2 separate regions of the Homo sapiens genome follow, and region 1 is reported to be linked to region 2. Evidence: microRNA targets listed by miRTarBase, many of them from high-throughput screens and not tested one by one. Region 2 holds a microRNA gene; the other region holds the end of a gene's coding sequence.
Evidence for each region. The annotated mature microRNA hsa-miR-6882-3p reads UGCUGCCUCUCCUCUUGCCUGCAG and lies in region 2 at 1,806-1,829, shown strand. An mRNA with a match to its seed (bases 2 to 7 or 8) in the 3' UTR can be bound and repressed. Matches are read on the target gene's strand: a 7mer-m8 pairs with bases 2 to 8, a 7mer-A1 pairs with bases 2 to 7 and ends in A, and an 8mer does both.

Region 1: miRTarBase lists PGK1 as a target of hsa-miR-6882-3p. Seed matches in the 3' UTR shown: 7mer-A1 at 2,877-2,883.

The regions. Positions count from the first base shown.
Region 1 is chrX:78,125,606-78,129,251 of GRCh38, reverse strand. PGK1 (phosphoglycerate kinase 1) reads right to left here. Exons shown (of 11, transcript NM_000291.4): 11 at 1-3,462. The coding sequence ends at 3,422. Among named protein-coding and RNA genes, the nearest start is that of TAF9B, 12 kb to the left of the region's middle.
Region 2 is chr15:74,838,235-74,842,470 of GRCh38, reverse strand. It overlaps MIR6882 (microRNA 6882), which reads left to right and starts at 1,764; the gene lies at 1,764-1,829. It overlaps ULK3 (unc-51 like kinase 3), which reads left to right. Exons shown (of 16, transcript NM_001099436.4): 2 at 51-191; 3 at 276-396; 4 at 962-1,066; 5 at 1,830-1,973; 6 at 2,155-2,237; 7 at 2,758-2,913; 8 at 3,098-3,203; 9 at 3,421-3,461; 10 at 3,726-3,828; 11 at 3,967-4,031; 12 at 4,127-4,205. RefSeq lists an enhancer at 1-321 and a silencer at 2,798-2,945.

The DNA of each region.
Region 1 (3,646 bases), not on the chromosome of region 2:
TAGATAGATAGATAGATAGATAGATAGATAGGTACACACATGGGTATGCTCTTTATGCAGAGTCTCACTGTTGCCCAGGCTGGAGTGCAGTGGCGTGATCTCGGCTCACTGCGAGCTCCGCTTCCCAGGTTCACGCCATTCTCCTGCCTCAGCCTCCCGAGTAGCTGGGACTACAGGCGCCCACCATCACGCCCAGCTAATTTTTTGTATTTTTAGTAGAGACAGGGTTTCACCGTGTTAGCCAGGATGGTCTCAATCTCCTGACCTCATGACCCGCCTGCCTGGGCCTCCCAAAGTGTTGTTGGGATTACAGGCGTGAGCCACTGCGCCCGGCCTCTTAATGTATATTAAATAGCCTTAGATTGAAAGAAACTGGTCTTCCAGAGGTTGCTTCTGGGGAGGGAAACTGGTAGGTAGGGGACTGAGGAAGGTGTCTTCATTGTATACTCCTTTTTGATCATGTGTAAACCCCTGTGCTAGAGGGAAATTTTGGAAATGAAGAAAACAGGAAAACACTGAGCTAAAGAACCAAATTGTTCACTTACGACATGGGAATTATTTTTTTCTGCATATAAACACACATATATAGTCTAGGGTTAAAGGTGAATTTACAACTTAAAGCATACACCTTTGCAATATTTTACCAATAATTCATAATTCCAAATTAGAAAGCACATCCTTATACTGTTTTGTGGGGTTTTTGTTTTGAGGCAGAGTCTCACTCTGTCGCCCAAGCAGGAATGCAGTAGCGTGATCTCAGCTCACTGCAACCTCCACCTCCCGGGTTCAAGTGATTCTCCTGCCTCAGCCTTCTGAATAGCTGGGACTACAGTGGCACACGCCACCACGCCCGGCTAATTTTTGTATTTTTGGTAGAAACGGGGTTTCACCATGTTGGCCAGGCTGGTCCCAAACTCCTGACAGGTGATCTGCCCGCCTTGGCCTCCCAAAGTCCTGGGATTACAGGCGTAAGCCACCATGCCCGGCCCCTTATACTGTTCTAGCTTATATGCACACAAGTTATCTACTATCTTCTTTGGTTAGGTTAAAAATTCCTTCAGAACATAAATGCTCTTATATTCCCTCTATCACGTCTTTAAGCACATAGAAGGAACTCAAATATTTGCCTAATTGACAAGTTGTTTATGACTGGAGATTCCCCCATTCATTCTTTAGGTTAACAACCCAAATAAATGAGGGGTGATCCTGGAAACAGTCCAGTAGAAAGTACTTAAAAGGTACAGTCAGAGATTGTTGGATAGATAATGTTGGCAATTGTAGAGTCTAGGTGCTGGGTTTATGGGAGTTTATGCTTCTTTCAGTTCCATTTGAAATAATTTTTAAAACGTTGGAGGAAAGGTAATCAGTAGGAAAAAGTCACAAAAATTGGACTAGAATTCCTGAGTACCCATAGAGGTATGCAGAAACATGGTACAATTTAAAATTAACTACAAATATGGGTACAGTATTAACTAAAATACAAATGAAGAAAAAACTTGAGCTTTCAAATTTCTGTTTTGTTTAGAGCAACCACCAAAATTTTCTTTTGCTATTCTATCCAGGGTTAAACAAAATAGTCTAGAAGCATCATGTCAGGGATAGAGTCTAGAAGCATCTATAGCCTAGAAGCATCATGTCAGGGACGGAGGCACATTGGAAAAGCATCAGCCACTGGAACCAGACAAACCTGGACTTGAATCCCTGCTGTTACTTACTAGCTCTGTGGTCCTGTCCAAAAGTTTATTTCTTTGTCCCTAAAGGTGAAATACATATCTTTCCAGCACAGAATTTCTGGTCAGACATGGCTTTTTCAAATCATGTTTACCTCTGCTCTCTCCCAAAACTCCATTAAAAGGACAGGAAAGAAATAGGAAGGTAAAATTATAAAGATGATGAAAGAATCCGAATGGCCATTTAGATTCTCAATAGTGACAATGAAACAGTGGCTTCGAGTCTCAAAAAGTGATACTCAGGCTAAAATTCTATATATAGCCAAACTAGGAATCAAGTATAAGGGTCGAATAAAGACATTTTCAGACTTACAAAGTCTTAGAGATTTTGCCTCCCAGGCACCCTTTCTCAGGAAGCTAGTAGAGTCTTGTGTTCTACAAAAAGTAGACCAAGAAAGAGGGAAAAGGGGGAATCCAGAAAACAGGAGTCTAACACAGGAGGTAAAAGAAATCCCCAAGAAGGTTATAGGAAATACCAGAGCAACAGCTAGCTGTACACCCTGCCTAGAGGGCATCAAGTACAAATTGGATAAAGGAGCACTAAGGACTCCTGCAGGGATAACTCTAACAAGGATTATTCAATATGTTTTAATATATTGAGACACTTATGCTTCTAGAAGATTTGGGAATGAATCACTGATGGGTATACACAGAAAATTTTTTGAAACACTGTTAATGCCAAAGACAATAAAAGTTACATAAGTAAATTTAATCATAGCATACTACATAGCTCAGCTGTATTAGTTATGTAGACTTTTGATCTAATCTATAATTGTGACAAAACTATACCGAGAGAATGAAGAAGTGGAAATATATGTGGAACAGAGCCTTCCTCCATGGTATGAAATAGATTTCTTTAAAAAATAAAAAAAAAAGAAGTGAACAATATAAGCATATTACTTAGAAACATGGAGGTATATACCTGAAAAACTCAAGAGTTGAAAGTGGTCACCTCTGGGGAGTGGGAATCTTGAATGGGAGGAATGGGCTGGGGCTTTTTTGTTATAAGCCTTGACTTTTTAAATTATGATCATGTGTAACTGATAAAAATAAAAGTTAGAATAAAAGCACTAGCACAATGTCTGCCATAAAGTAGGCCCTTGATAAAGAATGGACATTTATCTAATTGTCCCATCTCTCCACTGCTGCTGCCCCACTTCTTGCATTCAGCAATATAGACATCTGATCCGTTCCTCAAGATTCTATTCTCACCCTTCCTAACAAAGTATGACAGGAAAAAAAAAAAAATCACGGTTTCAATGGACACTTTTATTGTTTACTTAATGGATCATCAATTTTGTCTCACTACCTACAAATGGAATTTCATCTTGTTTCCATGCTGAGTAGTGAAACAGTGACAAAGCTAATCATAATAACCTACATCAAAAGAGAACTAAGCTAACACTGCTCACTTTCTTTTTAACAGGCAAAATATAAATATATGCACTCTAGAATGCACAATGGTTTAGTCACTAAAAAATTCAAATGGGATCTTGAAGAATGTATGCAAATCCAGGGTGCAGTGAAGATGAGCTGAGATGCTGTGCAACTGTTTAAGGGTTCCTGGCACTGCATCTCTTGGCCACTAGCTGAATCTTGACATGGAAGGTTTTAGCTAATGCCAAGTGGAGATGCAGAAAATGCTAAGTTGACTTAGGGGCTGTGCACAGGAACTAAAAGGCAGGAAAGTACTAAATATTGCTGAGAGCATCCACCCCAGGAAGGACTTTACCTGTTTTTGAGAGAGCACACATACATAGACAGCATTACTATAGGGCCCAGTAAGCCAGATTTCCCCCACTTTATCTTCCCAATAACATGCCAGCTCTTTTTTAGGATATATGGCCAGGAGCTGGCCAACTTTTACATTGTGGATTCCAGGTCTACTAGACCATAACTCTCAGACCAAGTTTCTA
Region 2 (4,236 bases):
AAGGGTCCTGGCCCCCTCAAGGCAGAGTCCCCAAATCTCCTGTCTCGCAGAAGGACACTCGTGAAGTGGTAGCCATAAAGTGTGTAGCCAAGAAAAGTCTGAACAAGGCATCGGTGGAGAACCTCCTCACGGAGATTGAGATCCTCAAGGGCATTCGACATCCCCACATTGTGCAGCTGAAAGACTTTCAGGTGTGAGCCTGGGGCGGGGCCGCTGCCAAAGGGAGCTGGAGAAGGGACACTCTCTTCAGGCCGCCTCTCTGCCTCTAAACACAGTGGGACAGTGACAATATCTACCTCATCATGGAGTTTTGCGCAGGGGGCGACCTGTCTCGCTTCATCCATACCCGCAGGATTCTGCCTGAGAAGGTGGCGCGTGTCTTCATGCAGCAATTAGGTAAAGGCCTGTGACACCAGCCTGACACTCTGTCCCTTGTTCTCTGCCCCCCACCATCCCACCCCTCCCCCAGGCTTAGAGCCTTGGCACGCATTGCAGCTGCCTCCTGCACAGCCTGAAATTTTATGGTCCTGTTTATCTCATACACTCAACCCTTGCTCAAGGACGCTGTGGGAGAGATGAGGGGGTAACCCCTCTGTGGGGTGTTCAGGCTTCCATACATAGAACATAATATAAGGACCTTGTAGAACATTCCAGAGTCCTGTAGGTAGGACTCAAGTGCTGTGCCAAGGAAAAGAGCAGGATCTCAAGGGCTGGGGCATCCAGAGAAGCTTCTGAGAGGTGGGGAGACTTGTGAAGGGGCAGAGGGAAGGAGGGTGGGCACTCGGGTGGGGTGGCAAACTCCTAGAAGTGGTGTGATCTTGGTGCTTATATGGAAAACATTAGACCAGCCAGGCAGGAACTGGGGTTGTGCAGGCTTGAGGAGGCAGATGTGAGCCGGGGAGGCGAGAGGCAGGCGGGAATGGGCTCTGAACTGTCTCTCTTCGTGGGTCCTGCTCCTCAGCTAGCGCCCTGCAATTCCTGCATGAACGGAATATCTCTCACCTGGATCTGAAGCCACAGAACATTCTACTGAGCTCCTTGGAGAAGCCCCACCTAAAACTGGCAGGTCTGTGTCTGAAACAGCAGGGATGAGGTTTGGAGAGTGCAGAGGCCTCCCTCTGCCTGGGCTCACTCAGCAGCCCTGGTTCTTATGGAGCCCTCTATAGAGTCCTCAAAGAGTGACAGGCCGTGAAGTCTGGGGTTGGGCCCTGTCATCAAAAGGTGGAAGCTTTCTCAGGCTACCCATGCTCAAGTCCAGCAGCATAATGGGTGGAGTTAGGGCTCAGTCTGTGGCCAGAGTTGGGACTCACTGTGTGTCCAGGTTTAGGGGTCAATCTGGGAACAGTGCCAGGGTTCAGCGTGTGACAAGCATCAGGGATCCCTCTGTGGGCAGGGACAGGACTTGGTCTGTCATCAGAATTGGGGCTCAAGTCTGTGACTCCATCTGTGGCCACATAGGAGGGGTGTGGTGGGGGAGTAGGAGGTGGTGACCCTTGATAAGATTTGGATAATTGACACTGGAGGCCAGAGACTGTGATAGAACCTAAGCCTGGGGGGACAGTGAGAGGGTGGGGGCTTATGCAGGTAGCTGGTGTGATCAGGTGGGCTTCCTAGGAAAAGGTGCCCAAGGGAGCTGGGAAGGATGGGTAGGTTTTATACCCCAGAGGCAGATATAGGAGGGTGTTCCAGCCTAATGATGAGCAGAGGCTTGGAAATAGGGTTGATCCTGGCGGGTCTGGAGGGTGGAGAGGAGCCTGGGGTGAGGCTTTACAAGTCAGGAGCTGAAGCAGCTGGAATTCAAGCCCTGCTGCCTCTCCTCTTGCCTGCAGACTTTGGTTTCGCACAACACATGTCCCCGTGGGATGAGAAGCACGTGCTCCGTGGCTCCCCCCTCTACATGGCCCCCGAGATGGTGTGCCAGCGGCAGTATGACGCCCGCGTGGACCTCTGGTCCATGGGGGTCATCCTGTATGGTGAGACCTCTTTTCCCTGCTTCTCACCCTGAGGCCTACAGTTTCCTCAGGCAAGGCCTCTCTGGGCCACTTCTGAAGGGTTCTGATGAAAACTGACTGCTGGCCCAGGGCCCCTGCTGAGGGGCGTCAGGCCAGGCTTGACCCATTCCCTCCCAGCCTCCGCTCTGCCTCCCTTCCACAGAAGCCCTCTTCGGGCAGCCCCCCTTTGCCTCCAGGTCGTTCTCGGAGCTGGAAGAGAAGATCCGTAGCAACCGGGTCATCGAGGTGTGTCTAGCAGGGCCTTAGCGACCACTGGGGGGCAGAGGGAGTCAGGGCCCTGAGGGTTTAGACCTCGTTCTGACCTGCAGAGACTGGAGTATGGGCTCCAGGCTGCCTTTGTGGTGGAGGGGCAGGTTCTAGGCTGGAAGTCGAGGTGCCAGGCTGTCCCAGGGCCTCAGGTCAGCCCACAGCTGGCAGCACAGTGCCCATTTTGCAGGCCCTTGTGGGGAGAATGCAAAGCAGAGCCAGGCCCAGCCTTCCTAGGAGCATAGTCCAGGGAGGGAAATAAGGACCCAGAAACACGATTCTAGCTCAGCTCAGGGCTCCAGCGAGGGTGCACCGGGAGCCCAGGGATGGAGGCCTCGCTCCCCGCTGGCTCCATCATCCTGACCCATCCTGTTCCTCCTCGGTCTCAGATTCCCCACCTGTCCAACGCGTACCTCTGGGGTTCCTCGCAGACCCCTGGGCTAGGGGTAGGGGTGGAGGAGCCCAGTGTGATCTGTCCCTGCCGTTCCCTTCCCTGCAGCTCCCCTTGCGGCCCCTGCTCTCCCGAGACTGCCGGGACCTACTGCAGCGGCTCCTGGAGCGGGACCCCAGCCGTCGCATCTCCTTCCAGGACTTTTTTGCGCACCCCTGGGTGGACCTGGAGCACATGCCCAGTGGGGAGAGTCTGGGGCGAGCAGTGAGCAGACGGCTGGGGCTGGGGTGGGCTGAGGGTGGGCTGGAGGTCTCCTTGCCCCCGTTGGTGGTGAATTGGTGACTCACCCAACAGAGACAGAGGGCGGGCTCAGGGGAGCTGATCTCCCATCTTGGTGAGTGTGGGAGGGTAGGGAGGTGGACCTGACCCCTGATCTGCCCATCCCCAGACCGCCCTGGTGGTGCAGGCTGTGAAGAAAGACCAGGAGGGGGATTCAGCAGCTGCCTTATCACTCTACTGCAAGGCTCTGGACTTCTTTGTACCTGCCCTGCACTGTGAGTCCCAGGCCATGCCTGAAGCCCGTGGGTGCAGCAGGGATGGGAGTCATCTGTGGCTGCAGTAGGTGGATTCCAGAAGTTCTCTATCTAGAATTTTGTAGGCGATAAAGCAGAGCGTAAACCTGGAATATTGTGTTTTGAGGGATTCCAGAGGGTTCGTTGTGGGGCAGGGAGGGGTTCGCCCAGACTCCTCATATGACCTCACTTTCTGCAGATGAAGTGGATGCCCAGCGGAAGGAGGCAATTAAGGCAAAGGTGGGTGAGAGTCCCCATGAGGAAGTGGGGGGGCAGGGGGTAAGGCCCGGAGATCTCGGGGGCCTCTGGGGAATGGCTCTCTTAGAATTGGAACTTCCTCTCCTGCAACACAGAGCTGGGAATGGGTCAGGCCAGCCACATTTGCCCCCTGACATGTTTATAGCTTGAGGCAGTCACTAACAATGCAAAGGGAGAACTTGGAGGTGGGTTCTGGCAAGGGTAGCTGGTGAGACAGCCCCTCCTCAGGCCCTTTCCCTGCTACAGGTGGGGCAGTACGTGTCCCGGGCTGAGGAGCTCAAGGCCATCGTCTCCTCTTCCAATCAGGCCCTGCTGAGGCAGGGGACCTCTGCCCGAGACCTGCTCAGAGGTAGACTCCGGTTTCTGGCTGACCCCAGGGCCCCCAGCAAACCTCCCCACAGCCTGAGGGGGAGGCGGGTGGGGAGAGGCATCCTGCAGCGAACAGGCAGGTTGCTTCCCTCACCCTGAGCCTTTCCCCTCATCTCAGAGATGGCCCGGGACAAGCCACGCCTCCTAGCTGCCCTGGAAGTGGCTTCAGCTGCCATGGCCAAGGTTTGTGCCAGTGGGAGGGGTCCAGGTGGGTCGGGGCAGGGCAGGGAGATACCCAGGCCATGACCCTAAGCAGCCTGGTGTCCTTGTGGCTGCAGGAGGAGGCCGCCGGCGGGGAGCAGGATGCCCTGGACCTGTACCAGCACAGCCTGGGGGAGCTACTGCTGTTGCTGGCAGGTGAGGGCCCCCATTTATGCCCCCCACAGGG